Regions from separate parts of the Homo sapiens genome. Here region 1 is linked to region 2. A link means that fine-mapping ties the variant in region 2 to the expression of a gene that starts in the linked region. Tissue or cell type: whole blood. Region 2 holds a variant in brackets; the other region holds the start of a gene. All regions are shown on one strand. Distances are between the middles of the regions.

Region 1 (8,108 bases), 60 kb after region 2:
CAGTCATCCTCCACAGAAGATAACTCATTAATGACATTTGATTCAGTGAATAAATATATCATTTAAAAAAATATTGTAGGGGGATCATGAAAGTAGTGGAGGTAATTACAATCAGGAGAGATTGGTATTAAAATTGAGCAAAGTCCCAACTCTCACCAGATGACAATTATGCATCCTGCTAGATGCCCCAGGGCTGTCAGCCTGGAACTGAAATAAATGTGTTATAAGTGGTGCTGGATGCCTTTTTCAGTTCATTTGAAAACATGGATTTGATCATGTCAGCTCCCTTTCTGCTGGAAAAAAAAGTAGTTTGCATAATTGGTGTTAACTACTCTGTTTTGATTCTACAGAGTAAGTAATACTCAAATGTGGTCTTACTTTAACTTCTTGCCTTTGTTACCCCCAGAACCATGCAGACATTGAAATGTGGTGTGCGTGTGTGTGTGTGTGTGTGTGTGTGTGTGTGTTCATATAACAGGAGGACAGGAAAGGTAAGGACCCAGAACAATGAAGACTTATTGAAATGTGGTATGTGTGTGCGTGTGTGTGTGTGTGTGTGTGTGTGTGTGTGTGTGTGTTCATATAACAGGAGGACAGGAAAGGTAATGACCATCCATGGAAGATGAAGGGGTAGTACTTAGCACCAGAATCTTTTCCAGTTTTTACCCATCTTTCATTACTCCTTGTCTCCAAATCATCCCTTCCTTAATAACTTAAAATAACTTAAAATATTTTCTGAGGACTTGATGACACCAGTCAGAAGTCCAAGAGTGGTCTGGTATAAGGGAGTGTTCATCAAGGGGCAGCTGGAAAAAGTGGAATTGGCACAGGCAACATCTTTCTTTTCAGATGTTTGAGGTCACCCAGAGGAGATAACAGTCTGTCAACATAGAGCCCTCAAAGTTAAAAAGCAGTAGCCAGGCAAGACTTGTGTCTTTTCAGGGCTCTTCCAGGCTCTAAGAGTGTGAAATTCAGACAGGTTTTTAAAAATCAAAATAAAAGGAGAGTAGTTCTTACAGGCAGAAACTCTTAGAGCTCACAAATTGGAAACAACTGCAAACTTCAGAGTAAATTCATAGCTTCCAAATACAAATGTTCACATTGTCCCTCCGCTATTTTTACACAAATGCATTCAGGTGAAGACAGCAACACACATTGGGAAAGGACATCTGCTTCCTATTTTAGTCCCAGAATCACTTTTGCTTCTAGTCCCAACTGTTCCCTCTCCCCAATCCCAACCTTATCCATGTAACAGTATGAATTTCCTGGCCCAGAGACCTAAACAAGAAGTCACGAATATACCTACTTTTGGTTGCACTTGCCATTTCAATGCTTAGGAAAACAGAGTGGTCAGCAATGACCACACTGGAGATGAGAGAAACCATTTTCGGGGAGAGATTTAAGCTGGACTCTGCCCCTGCTCTTGGTAAGTGGTGTCTCCAGTTGCTGCAGTGCCTGGAACCAAACTCTGCCTTTCCTCAATTGCCTGATATGCTTTCTTCTTGAACTTCCGGGTGCCGTAGATGGCCAAGGTGATAACAACAGCCAGAATGGTGGTGACCCCCACTGTGACCCCAGCTGCAGCCCCTCCTGACAGACCACCACCATCCCCATGGATGACATTCATGGCCCTCCGCAGCTCTATCGGTTCTCCCAGCCTCCACTGGTGGGTCTGGGAGTCTTTAATCCAGGATCTCGCATTCTCAGAATTGGTCACTATGACAGTATTGGTGGCAGCCTGACTCATGAGGGGTGGCCGGGTGAAAGGTGGGAGCCTGGCAGGGGGCAGGGACCCTCCTGTGAAGAGCCCGGATTTGACGCAATAGGACACTTGGCATCCATCGCTGATGAGGGCTGGGTGCTGGCTGAAGCCCCCGGGGCACTTTTTCAGAGACGGTGCCCCTAAATCTCTGGATATAGCAGGATCTACCAGGGGGTTCCCAACTGTGCAGCTAAAGAACCCGCCAAAGGGGACCGCAAACCTGCTTCCCAACTCATAGTCCTGAGAAACACATACCTTGAGGTTTTCAAAGAGTCTCAGTGGAAAGTAGCCGGCTGGGCATGACTGTGCATTTGTCATGGGGTTTATGCTCTTGCTGCTGAAGAGGCCCCCAAAAAGCAGTCCTGAGTTTTCAGGTACTTGGCTGCTGGCCACACACCAAAAAGCCCTAAATTCAGCTTTTGCCACCTGGAACACATCTTCACACACGGTCTTGCAGAAGACGAGGAGAGTGCACTTTCGATGACACTCCAGGTGGTTGTAACCCTCCTCGTGGATCTGGGATAACAGGTGCACCGGGGAGTAGCCAGAGGGGCAGGAGAAATCACCAGTGAGTGGATTCTTCTGCTCCAACTTTTGGCAGAGGAGGACATCCCTATTCCCTGAGAGCTGAGTGCATTCCTGATAAACCCCACCGAAAGAGAAGTTGGTCATTTTCCCCTCGCAGGAGCCATCATCCGTGTTGGCCTGAAAATTGAAGTTGGGAGAATTGAGATCTGTGCAGCCAGGGTAGGTGTTGAATGTATAATAGCGCTTCACAGCAGTTTCCACTGTCTTTGACACCTTCTTCACCAGGGGGCCTGGCAAGTCAGGTAGCATGTTGGGGTTGATGAAGAAATGCAGCGGCAGGCCAGAGCGGTCGATGGCCACCAGGTGGTTGGTGATACCCTGCTGCCAGGCCTGGAGGGTGATGCCTGGGTAAAAAGGAACCCCTCCAATGCTCTGCACCCTGGAGTTGGTTCGGTTTGAGAGGTAGCTCTTGGTGAGGACATTCTGCGAGGTATAGTTTTCCTCAAATTTGAAGTTCACGGTGTTTTGAAAGGCAAGTCCAGCAGAGGCGGTCACGGCACTACGACTGCTCTGGCTGTCTTGGAGGAAGGAGGCCCTGAGGTGGTCCTCCTGAATAAGAGCAGCCCCAGCGTCGACACTGGTGGTGACGTGGGTGCCATAGTTGAGCACCAGGAGTTCTGCCAGGTAGGTGGCCATCCTCGTCTGGTTGTTCTCTAGACGGTCAGAGATGTCAAGGAGTTCCTTCCTAAAACCTGAGCTTAGCTCTAAAGTTGGGTTGATTTTGACTGTGTAGACGAGGTTTCTTACCTGAACTCGGGTAGTTATAGCTTGGTCCTTCACTTGGAGGGTCTTCATCCTCTGGAACTCAGTGGAAAACTTGCCATTGACTTTGGAAAAAAGAGAGAGTTCTGTGTTGATGGAGTAGGAGGTGCTACTCTGGTAATTTGCCCAGGATTCCAGGATTTCTGAGTTCATCTCCAGGTTGCTCTGTTTCTGGGGAATGGTGAAGATTTCATCAGGGATGATATACTGTCCATCCTCTGTTGTCCTGCAGTTGGAGTAAGTCAATTCCATAACTCGTCCCATGTCCACATTCCGCAGATTGTCCCAGCCCCCTCCAGGTAGGACTTCCAGGACAGGTAGTTTCAAGGCATTCTTGCATTTTTGAACTCCAACTTCGTCCATCTCTCCCGAAGGCTTGCCTGATTTAGCCCATGCTGCCGCTGCCCAGAAGAGGATGGTGGCCCTGAAGTTGTTCATGGCTCAGACAGCCCCAGCCACTCACCAGCCCTACACAGCGGCCAGCAAGCTTTGGGCAAACTAAGATGGAGAAAACAGAAGCAGATGATGAAGCGGAAAACTCATGAGTTCTCTAAAAGCTACAAGTTCCTCTTTAAGCTAATTTAATGACAAAATGGGGAAACGAGAGTTGGTTGGAATATTAAAGACCATCAGGTCTTTGAAGAATTTATGCCGTACTAAACATGCAAACACACCCCTACATGCCTAACAGGTAGCTATCCTAATTTTTCCCCCAGCTCTGGCTGGTTACTCTGCTGCAGGGGTGTGCACTTAGAAAAAAATCCCGACCCCACACCCTACTGCTTCCTCCACCAGAAAGTTTGGCTTTGCTTTTTGCTCATTCTCTTGGACTTGATGTTTCATATTTTCCCTGACTGCTGTCTCTTGGGACTCCATTATCAGTTTTCTTTTACTATAAATGCAGAGGCAAATGACCACACCACCCTTACTGAAACACCCTGGCTCCACCATACCTATGCAAGCTGTTAGTCAAGGCCAACCCTGGGTTTCCTCTTTGCCTGAGGGTGGAGGCTGTTTCCACAAAAGAAAGGAGTGAAACTCTTGGACACTTGTCCTGTGGGTTTCACTGTTATGAACCATAGCAATTCTGTCTTTGGGGATGGCATTGTCTGGAGCACAGCTGACAGGGCCTGAAGAGGATTCGGTTGCAATATGCTGGGAAACCCCAATTTGCATTGTCCTAAGCATTCAAAGCGAGGGCAAGGAACTCCTACACTGTGTTGTTTTCATTCAGATAGAAATGTTCAAGACAAAACCACACTATTATCTAGATTTTGATTTATCAACAGCAGACAGGGGCCAAGGAACATATGTGTATGTGTACACACATTTATATATCCTCTGTGTGTGTGCATTTTGTATGAAGTTGGTACCTGTTATACCTTTAATTTTTTGTTCCATTGCTAAGTGTGTGTAATCAGTTTAGGTGGATAAAAAAGAATGTGGCTCTTCACTACCCAATATTTTTTCTAAAAGCAAAAATTCATTTGCTATATCATTAGAAGAATATAATTACATGAGTTTCTTTTCAAGTTCCAATGCCAGCTCTATTAGAGCCCATAATTTAAAACAATGGTGACAGGTTTGATTGAAACCCAACTCTGTTAATTCTTTGGGACAATTAGGCTATGTCTTAGTATGCTTAGTGGTAGCCAGGGAATCCAGAGGACTTAGTGAAGCTCCCAGTTGCATCCTTAACATTCCCAAGATTATACCATGAACTAGATACAGTACTGAGACTGAAAAAGTCATGTTGCAATTCACAGGTATCACTACACCATCACCTGTATGCATCCTGGAAGGAAGGTTCCAAGGAGTTGAATTCCTCTGTTGGTTATTAATGCAGCAAAGAAGTGTTTTTAGAAAGAATGAGGCTAGTTATCTTGCTTCCCAGGCTGGGCTTCACCAGTTATTATCAAAACCATGATGGTGTTCTATAAATCTAGAAATACTGCATTCCGGGTATATTTTTTTTTCCAAGACAGGGTCTTGCTTATTGCCCAGGCTTGAGTGCAGTAGCTATTCACAGGCATGGTCCCACTACTAATCAGCATAGGAGTTTTGACCTGCTCCATTTCCAACCTGGACCCGTTTAGCCCTCCTTAGGCAACCTGGTGATTTGCTCCAAGGAGGCCACCATATTGATGCTGAGCTTAGTGCAGACACCCAACTGGCATAGCACACTACAGCCCAGAACTCATGGATTCAAGCAATCCTCCCACATCAGCTTCCCAGGAATCTGGGACTGCAGTCATGCACCACCACACCTGGCCATTCTGGTTCTATTTGTGCCACAGTTATCATGCTTCTGGGAAGTGACACCAGCCACCTAAGAGGGATTAATTTATGAACCAGTGCCTAGTCTGTATTTGGCTAAAGAACCAAATCTTTGCACAGGATGTTCTAGTTAATTTATAAATCAGTTAGCCATAAATTTATACCTCAGCAGCATGATCCCAGAATTAGAAAAATGAGAGTTGAATGCCCTTGAGTACTTCCAATAAGTCTGTTGAAATACCTACATACTTCTCTTCAAACTATTTCTGGGATGGTTCATCAAAATTAGAATACTCTCACACTGCTTTGGAGACAAGCTGACAATTTGTTACCCTCTGCTTTCTCTTTAGTAGACCCTGTTGAGAGCTCACTCTCCTGAAATGAGAATACAAGCAAGGTTAATACAGACAATTCTATATTCAGGTGTTCCTATGTCTCCAGACGTCTAGTCACTGTATTTTTTATTCTATAGACTTTGTCTTCATTTTATCATAGGAAAAAAAAATTGAAAATAGCAGAAAGAGCCAACAACGGTAAAATTACATTGTACCCATAAGACAAAATATTGTATAGCCATCACAATTATTTAAAACTATTTTAATAACATGAGAAATTCTTATGCCATAATGTTACTGGAAAGGGTTCCCAATGCAGACCTCAAGAGAGAGTTCTTGGACTTTGTGCAAGAAGGACCAGGGCAAGTCCACAGAGTAAGGTGAAAGTAAGTTTATTAGAGAAGTAAAGAAACAAAAGAATGGCTACTCCATAGGCAGAGCAGAAGTATGTGCTGCTTGATTAAGGATACTTATCATTATTTCTTAATTATATGCTAAACAAGGGGTGGATTAATCATGAGTTTTCTGGGAAAGAGGTGGGCAATTCCCAGAACTAAGGGTTCCTCTCCTTTTTAGACTATACAGGGTAACTTCTGGAAATTGGCAGTCATGGCACTGGTGGAAACATCTTTTAGCATGCGAATGCACTACAATTAGTGTATAATGAACAATGAGGATGACCAGAGTTCACTCTTGTCGCCATCTTAGTTTTGGTGGGTTTTGGCTGCCTTCTTTACTGCATGCTCTTTTATCAGAAAGATCTTTGTGATCTGTATCTGTATCTTATGCCAATCTTCTATCTCATCCCATGACTTAGAATACTTAACCCTCTGGGAATGCAGCCCAGCCTTCTTTTACCCAGCCCCTATTCGAGATGGAGTTATTCTGGTTCAAATATCTCTGACAATAATGTTATGAAAAAAAAGAATGATAAACATTCAGCATGACCCCAACTATGTACATAACTAGAGGGATGTACGCCAATGCATAGACAGTAATTACATCTGGTTGAGAGGTTTTTCTAAATTATTTTAATTTTTTCCTCTTTTCTGTGTTTTTTGAGTTTTCAACAATGAGCATGTATTTATTAACTCGAGAAATTTGTATTCAGAGCCTATTAAGTACCAAACACTGATGGGTATTGGGTAATCATCACTTTTGTGCTCAGGAAAATAACCAATGCACAACCATGTAAAAAAAAAACAAAAGAAACAGGCCAGGCAGGGTGGCTCATGCCTGTAATCCCAGCACTTTGGGAATCCGAGGTGGATGGATCACTTGAGGCCGGGAGTTCAAGACCAGCCTGGCCAACATGGAGAAACCACATCTCTACTAAAAATACAAAAAAATTAGCCAGATGTAGTGGTGACACACAACTGTAATCCCAGCTACTTGGGAGGCTGAGGCAGGAGAATTGCTTGAACCCAAGAGTTCGAGGCTGCAGTGAGCCGAGATCGTGCCACTGCACTCCAGCCTGCGAGACAGAGTGAGACTGTCAAAAACACAAACAAACAAACAAACAAAAAAACTTAGTTCTGGAATTTTTATATTCCTGAAATGACCCAAAGCCTATGGATTATGTGACTGCTGTGCTCAAGGAAGTTCTCTTTCCAGTTCTCTGGGAAACAGTGAAAGGAGAAGTGCAAATGATGGGAAATTTGGCTTAACTTAATTTTACATACCAGGAGCAGAAGAACTGCTCATAACAGTCACATATGAGGAAGTGGTGACCAGTGCATTTTACCCACAACTTTTCTGTTTTATTCTGTTCACCAGAAATTTCCTTTGCTTTTTCTTGTACTGGAATGCATATGCAGTCACATAACCTCCCCAGATGGCCACACTTGAGGAGTAATGGCCTGTGGCTAACACTGATCTCTAAAAGAAAGAGGCATCTTGTCTACAAAAACTTTGCATCTGCGTTGCTGAACGGCGATTTCACTTCCTCCAAAAAGAGGCAAGAAGGAAGTCCCACATCTGCTTTCTTTCTCTGTTTGATCCCGTGCAACCTTCTGACACCATCTCATTCAGCGCCAAACCGTGATTCATATCTGAGGTTCGCTTCTGTGTGGGCTTGGAACTAATCCAGGTGTTTCCTACTTCTGCATTTCACCTGTGGTCTAAAATGGGGAGGAAAGTCTAGTTGCATTTGCTGGGACAATTCCCTTTCAGCAGGAATCTAGGAAACCAGTGTGAAAACTGATGGTTAAATAATTACTAAGTAGATCAGAGAACTATGGCTTTTAAAGACTTTGCAGTAAACTTTGTTATGGAAAATCTGGAAAGTATCAGTGAACAAAGTGGCAGTATTTTCCTTTCTGAACAGTTGATTCCTAGCCTGACGTTTTAAGAGTTGCGTTGTCAGCTTCTTCCCCTCAGAGGCT
Region 2 (8,108 bases):
TCTTACCATAACCTTGTTAGGAAGTCAGGAAGGATTCTGACAAATCTTCAATTTGTTTATTGGAGAAGAGGGAGAAAGTGAGTTGTTGCTTAAGGCAGGAATGAAGTGAAGACTTGGAGTTAAGTTTAATGACATGTAGTTGGGCCTTTTTCTACTGATTGGGCTCTGTTATCATATCAAACCATTGTATCTTTCCCTGAGTCTAAAATTCTCCTTGAATTTATCAAGAAAAAAGTTGAGGAATGGTAAACATTTGAGTATGAAGCTTACAATTTCTCAACTTGTTTTGTTTTGTCCTGGTTCTGGAAAACTAGAATATCCAAGTATCTAAAAAGTCTAAGGCAAACTTAGTTATGTTTTTCTCTATCCTATTCCATGACAGAGCTAATTACTATATCCTATTCCTCTTCCCCTTTCAGAAGTGTCTATATCTGCCCAAGAATCATTTTAATAAATAGGAAATTTATTATAGTACTCTAATAGGGTGCATGACAAAGATGTTTCTGACAGCATTAGGCTGAAGGGATGCTCTTTGAGAGTTTATATGTGAGCCCAGGGTAAATCTGCATTACCTTAAGTCCCTTTTATTTATTTATTTTTGATCTGGAATATTAGTATAAAGAAGGAAAACAAATGTTAACATATTATGTGCTAGTCATTGTGCTAGGCATTGTCATACAATGATGCTACACTTAATCTTTACAATATTCCTAGCATTGTTATTCCCAGTAGTAGTAAGGGGCATTGCTGGCATACGGACCCATATCTGCTGGTACCCATGCCATGATGAATATGACTTGGGAAAAATGTGTTTTTTAGACATAGGAAACAGACACTCTAATTTTTCACTGAGTTTCTACTATTTGATTAAGCCTCTTTATTTAATTCCTCTCCCCACCTCCACCCCCGTTTCTTAAGATAATGCGCTACAAAAATGGCAATCATAAATATAAAGTTTACAAAAAAGAATGTATACACTAGTCCAGTGGAAAATATAATTGGACTGGGAATTGCAATTTTGATACTCACTTTATTTATTGGTTATTATGTGACCCTAGAAAAGACGTCTACAAGAAAAACTTTCTGTGCCTTAGTTTCTCCATCAAAAGGATAGATAAGTCATGTTTGTTCCTCCTTATTTTATAAACTTTGGGGATTAGTTGATGTAATAGAGAAAATAGAGTTCTTTTCATGATATATGCTGGGCAAATCAAAGTATTTATTGTTACAAATAACTACATTATAACCAAATGATTAGTTAAATAATGATTTTGTTTAATATGTAATGCTTATAATAAATTGCGGTAGCTTATCGCTGAATTCAGTATTTCAAGAACAATTTTTTTTTGCTGTAATTCATTATTGTCCTCAGGAAATATAAAAATTATATAGCTGAAGATAATAAACAAGTCCTGAAATAAAACTATTTCAAATACTAGTGGACTTTTTTTTTTTGAGATGGAGTTTCACTCTTGTTGCCCAGGCTGGAGTGCAATGGTGCTATCTCCGCTCACTGCAACCTCCACCTCCCAGGTTCAAGCATTTCTCCAGCCTCAGCCTCCCAAGTAGCTGAGATTACAGGCATGTGCCACCACACCCAGCTAATTTTTGTATTTTCAGTAGAGACGGGATTTCACCATGTTGATCATGCTGGTCTCAAACTCCTGACCTCAGGTGATCCACCCGCCTTGGCCTCCCAAAGTGCTGGAATTGCAGGTGGGAGCCACCATGCCCGGCCACTAGTGAACTTTTAAGAATCTCTGTTTTTGAGGCACCTGGGAAAAAATTTTTTCTTCCCTCATATTTTTCAGAAGAATGCACTAGTGTAGTGGTACCAAGAGTTTATCTGACAGAGGTTATAGGAAGCTCCGCTTTCATTTTGGATCCCATGTCAAACACTGATTTAATATTATTCACTGGCCCTTTTAGATTGGTTCTCAGTTTCTCATAGGAATTTTGTGAATTGCATACCTGAAAAGAGAAACAAAAGACTCGGGTTGCATTCAGAGTTTTAAAGTATCTAACATTTATTTTTAGGTCTCTAAAGAGCAACAGAATAATTGCAGTACTTCTCTAATGAGGATGGAGTCTAGAGGAGACCCAAGAGCCACAACTAATACCCAGGCTCAAAGATTCCATTCACCTAAGAAAAATCCAGAAGACCAGACCATGCCCCAAAATAGGACAATATATGTTACCTTGAAGGTAAACCACAGGAGAAACCAAGATATGAAACTTAAGCTCACACATAGTGAGAATAGTAGCTTATATATGGCTCTCAACACTCTCCAGGCTGTCAGAAAAGAGATAGAAACTCACCAAGGCCAAGAAATGCTTGTGCGTGGCACAGAAGGAATCAAAGAGTACATAAACCTTGGAATGCCCCTCAGTTGTTTCCCTGAAGGTGGCCAGGTGGTCATTACATTTTCCCAAAGTAAAAGTAAGCAGAAGGAAGATAACCACATATTTGGCAGGCAGGACAAAGCATCGACTGAATGTGTCAAATTTTACATTCATGCAATTGGAATTGGGAAGTGTAAAAGAAGGATTGTTAAATGTGGGAAGCTTCACAAAAAGGGGCGCAAACTCTGTGTTTATGCTTTCAAAGGAGAAACCATCAAGGATGCACTGTGCAAGGATGGCAGATTTCTTTCCTTTCTGGAGAATGATGATTGGAAACTCATTGAAAACAATGACACCATTTTAGAAAGCACCCAGCCAGTTGATGAATTAGAAGGCAGATACTTTCAGGTTGAGGTTGAGAAAAGAATGGTCCCCAGTGCAGCAGCTTCTCAGAATCCTGAGTCAGAGAAAAGAAACACCTGTGTGTTGAGAGAACAAATCGTGGCTCAGTACCCCAGTTTGAAAAGAGAAAGTGAAAAAATCATTGAAAACTTCAAGAAAAAAATGAAAGTAAAAAATGGGGAAACATTATTTGAATTGCATAGAACAACGTTTGGGAAAGTAACAAAAAATTCTTCTTCGATTAAAGTAGTGAAACTTCTTGTACGTCTCAGTGACTCAGTTGGGTACTTATTCTGGGACAGTGCAACTACGGGTTACGCCACCTGCTTTGTTTTTAAAGGATTGTTCATTTTAACTTGTCGGCATGTAATAGATAGCATTGTGGGAGACGGAATAGAGCCAAGTAAGTGGGCAACCATAATTGGTCAATGTGTAAGGGTGACATTTGGTTATGAAGAGCTAAAAGACAAGGAAACAAACTACTTTTTTGTTGAACCTTGGTTTGAGATACATAATGAAGAGCTTGACTATGCTGTCCTGAAACTGAAGGAAAATGGACAACAAGTACCTATGGAACTATATAATGGAATTACTCCTGTGCCACTTAGTGGGTTGATACATATTATTGGCCATCCATATGGAGAAAAAAAGCAGATTGATGCTTGTGCTGTGATCCCTCAGGGTCAGCGAGCAAAGAAATGTCAGGAACGTGTTCAGTCTAAAAAAGCAGAAAGTCCAGAGTATGTCCATATGTATACTCAAAGAAGTTTCCAGAAAATAGTTCACAACCCTGATGTGATTACCTATGACACTGAATTTTTCTTTGGGGCTTCCGGCTCCCCTGTGTTTGATTCAAAAGGTTCATTGGTGGCCATGCATGCTGCTGGCTTTGCTTATACTTACCAAAATGAGACTCGTAGTATCATTGAGTTTGGCTCTACCATGGAATCCATCCTCCTTGATATTAAGCAAAGACATAAACCATGGTATGAAGAAGTATTTGTAAATCAGCAGGATGTAGAAATGATGAGTGATGAGGACTTGTGAGAATTCAGTCTACTGGATTTAAGGGAATGGCTTATGGAGTTGTTATTTCATAGGCATTGAAAATGGTTTTCTAAACTCCAAAATGGTCATCTTATCAATAATAATAATATTGACCATTTCCTATCTGCCAGGCATTTTTCTAAGCACATGAAGAAATTAGTCCTAACAACACTATGAGATGGACTATAACTTGCCCAAATTTTTTTTTTTTTTTTGAGACTGAGTCTCACTCTGTCGCCTGGGCTGGAGTACAGTGGTGCGATCTCAGCTCACTGCAACTTCCACCTCCCAGGTTCAAGCGATTCTTATGCCTCAGTCTCCTGAGCAGCTGGGATTACAGGCAAACGCCACCACACCCAGCTAA[ATTT/A]TTTTTTTTTTTTTTGTATTTTTAGTAGAGACAGGGTTTCACCATGTTGGTCAGGCGGGTCTCGAACTCCTGACCTCGTGATCCACCTGCCTCGGCCTTCCAAAGTGCTGGGATTACAAGTTTGAGCCACTGCACCTGGCTAACTTGCCCTATTTTAAAGTCAAGCAATGGGAAGAATAACAAGATTATATAGTAATCAGTTTCATGACACTAAAAGTCATATAGTCATAGGGTTTTTTCATCTTTCATATCTTTGCCTAAATTCATTTGCTACAGTGCAGGAACCAAAACTTGTTCATCTCATGATTCCCTACATCTGACATAAGGAAAGTAAGTGCTCAGAAAAATGTGCAGGTCAATAAGTTGCAAAAGTTGGGGCTGCAATTAATGCTAACATAAGAGCTAAATGCTTGATTAGAAATGATCTCAAAACCTTTTAGAATTTCCAAAATCTTCATATTACTGAAACTGTCGGAATATATGGGTCTTGAAATTCAGAAGATGATAGTCACTCTTCCCATATTTATAGGCTATTAAGGCAAGGGATATCTTAAACATCATATTACTTTATTTAGATTTCTACTACTCCAATTATTAATGTTATGTATTTCTCATTGTTTTACTTCTTCATGGTATTATGAAGACTATATAGATGATTCAACCAAGCCTGCAAATCTCCCTCTTGTGGAATTCCACTGGACCCAATCTGTTTTCCATTTCCATTGCAATACTACTAAAGCCATACAATATCAAGCACCCTCCCTCTAGGTCCAGGGACTATCACAGAAGAAGCAGGCATGTAAGATTTTAAGGACTGGTTTCGAGGGGTCGAGTGTAGGAAAACAGCCTGTTGCATTGTAAGAGTGATGTCATCTTGAAGAGCAGCTGGCATGATGACTGCTGTTTGACTCCTGCATACCAAGATATTCTGCAGCAATGTCTTTAAACAGTGCCGGTAGTACAGATAACCCCTCATAAAGATGCTTATCTAACCTCCCCAGTGTTCAGGTGTTTCACAAGAAAGTCTGAGATATGACTAGCTACACGTTTTGCCAAAAATGCTTGTTATATAAAGGGTACTTTTGGGAGGGTGAGTGCCGCCATTTAGTGGCTGCTAGAAACATTGCTTCTGTTTGTAAGTTCCTATTAAATGTTTCTTTCTGAGAAACCGTATTTGTCAGCCTCTTTCTTTGGCCTCTCAGCTTCTTTGGTCTTTGGGGGTAGGTTGGGGTAGGTTTGCATTGACCTGCTCACCGTGAAACACCTGGTGACTTTTAATGAAGAATGGCATTAGAAACCAAGATCTAGGCACTAGATATGCTCATTGCTGGTGGCGTGTTGTTTCTTTTAGGCCCCCTCAGCTGACAGGGCAAAGAAATATTTGTGTGTATATTTACCCACATATGTATATGTACACATATGTATATATGCCTTGCTTATCTGTAAATTCCAACTCCAAACAGTTGGAAGCGTGATGCCTGCCATCCCTCACACATTCACTTAATTGCTTAATCCAAGTATACATATATAGCAGTGTCAGAATTGTTAACCTCTACCTCAATGGGAAATAATTTTATCAACTAGAATACAGTGCCTATGTGCAATTTCCCTGCTTTTAGTCTTATATATTCCATTCATTCCCAAAGTTATTTCAGTCACCCTGTTGTTTCTTACCTCCTTCAGTGACGTTTTATATGCTTATAGTACAGTTATACATAATATAATAGTTAGATTTTCTTGTCACAGTTTGAATTCTTTCCTTTGACCCCTTGACCTCCTAAATGATATTTTAATGTGTATTCATTGATTCACTCTGTGCTGTAAAGTTCTATGGGTTTTATCATACAGAATAGTTATATCACCCTAGAAATCTGTGCTTCACCTATGTATCCCTCATATCCCTCCCCTCTCCCCTGAACCCCAGCAAAAAAAAAAAAAAATCACTGATCTTTTTACTATCTTTATGGTTTTGCATCTTCTAGAATGCTATATAATCAGATTCTGTTTATATAGTTAGTACATTTTCCACATTTTTCTTTTTTGTTGTTGGTGGTGATTTTTCTGCTTAAGTGCTTAAATGGGTCCCATGCATAAAACTGAGGTTCTGTCGAGTGTTCCCTACCAAAAGATGGCTGCAATATGCCTTATAAAGAAAACATATGTATTAGATAAGCTTTTCAGACAGGAGTTATGGCATTTTGGGCTGTGAGTTCAATGTTAAGGAATCAACAATATATATTAAATAAGCTGTATTTTTAACAGAAACACACATAAAGCAAGTTTATTTACTGACTTTGATGAAAATGTTGTGACCAGAAGATAATATGAATTTAACACTGTGTTACTCCTAAAGGCAATGCTTCAGTATTTGCTAATTCAATATTTGCAGCATCTTTATAGACCATAACTACCACAAATAATGAGAACTGACTGTATCATTTCAAATATGGTTTCAAGTCTAATGCCTGCCTAATCGTCACAGAGACTTAAACTTACGTGGCTTTACTGTTTATTAAATAATTTCTGACATATTATCTCAATACACATTAGAGCAGATATTATTATACCTGTTGCCTGTGTGAGAAGGAAGTATAACTGAATTTTTACCCAAATTGGTGATATCTTGGAAAAGACTGGGACTTATATCTTGAAATATAGCTTATTGTTCTTTCTCCTAAGAGCTAGTTCATCAGATCCAGACACTACTATGGCCATTCCTGCATCTAAAGTACACCCACCTTGGATCACTTAAGAAATATAAGCATTTCAGAATGCAGCAAATACCTTTCTCTGATTTTCTCTTGTCCTAGCTCTCAAGACCAGGTAGCTAGAAAATTCAGCTTAGGTCTGGATTTATCACCACTCACTCATCCAATTCCTGGTTACAGAGCTAACCCACTATCACATTCTACTCCAGATCTCTCTTTGAAATGGGATAATGGATTAAACAAGGTTGTAGTGGGTTTAACTGTGCCTGCCCCTAAGGGCAGGCACTATCCTCACCCTATATACCTATAAATGTGACCTTATTTAGACAAAAATGCTTTGTAGATGTAATTAAATTAAGATTCAAGAGATGAGATCATCCTGCACTTACTGGGTGAGCCCTAAATCCAGTAACGAGCATCCTTATAAGTAAAGAAGAAACACAGAGGAGAAACCGAGAAAGAAAGGCCATGTGAAGATGGAGACAGAAATTGGAGAGATACATCTACAAGCCAGGGGTTGCCAGGGATTGCCAGAGGCCACTAAAAGCTAGGAGAGAGGCATGGACAGGTTCTCCTCAAAACCTCCAGAAGGAACCAACCCTGATAACATCTTAATTTCAGACTTCTGGTCTCCAGAAATAAGAGAGTAGATTTCTGTAGTTTCAAGCCACCAAGTTTGGGGTAATTTGTTATGAACTGGGTGGCTTAAAACAATTTAGTCTCTCACAGTCATGAGAGGACAGAAATGTATAACCTGAAGTCAAGGTGTTGGCAGGGCTGTACTTTCTCCAGAAGGTGCAGTGGGGGTAAGGGCGAGTGAATTAAGGGTCCCCCACTGACCTACCTGCTAATGAGTCTGAGTGGCCAGAGGTAGAATTGAAATAAGCCACCCAAATGATTCTTTGGTTGTCACTCATGTGACTCAGTCTCCTCTGGGCAGGAACAGGAAGGGATGCTCTCATGACAATGGAGCAGCAAGCCCCACAGCCCAGCAGAAAAGCAACGTGGTTGTGGCTACTGAGTGAAGAATCCCTGAAGTTGAAATACATGGTGTCAGCAATAAGGACCTTGCTATTTGATATATAGCTTCGGGCGAACAAAACATTTGAAATTTATTTGATTGAATACAAACTAGTCATTCAAAACTAAAAATACATGTAGCCAATTTCCTTCCCCTTTGCCCCCCTTTAACCCATCCCTTCCCTTCTGCCTCAACCTCAGCTGCTTTTAGAGAAAGATAA

Evidence for each region. PIP is the estimated chance that this variant, and not a neighbour inherited with it, causes the effect.
Region 1: MPEG1 starts here. The variant in region 2 is fine-mapped to the expression of MPEG1 in whole blood (INTERVAL, PIP above 0.99).

Annotation. Positions count from the first base shown.
Region 1 is chr11:59,209,316-59,217,423 of GRCh38, forward strand. MPEG1 (macrophage expressed 1) reads right to left here and starts at 3,612. Exons shown (of 1, transcript NM_001039396.2): 1 at 1-3,612. The coding sequence starts at 3,550. The coding sequence ends at 1,400. It also overlaps the pseudogene RN7SL42P. RefSeq lists an enhancer at 3,589-3,788.
Region 2 is chr11:59,149,713-59,157,820 of GRCh38, forward strand. It overlaps FAM111A (FAM111 trypsin like peptidase A), which reads left to right. Exons shown (of 6, transcript NM_001312909.2): 6 at 2,038-5,327. The coding sequence ends at 3,792. Among named protein-coding and RNA genes, the nearest start is that of FAM111A, 11 kb to the left of the region's middle. RefSeq lists an enhancer at 2,871-3,000. The variant ATTT/A (reference allele first, on the strand shown) is at 4,157.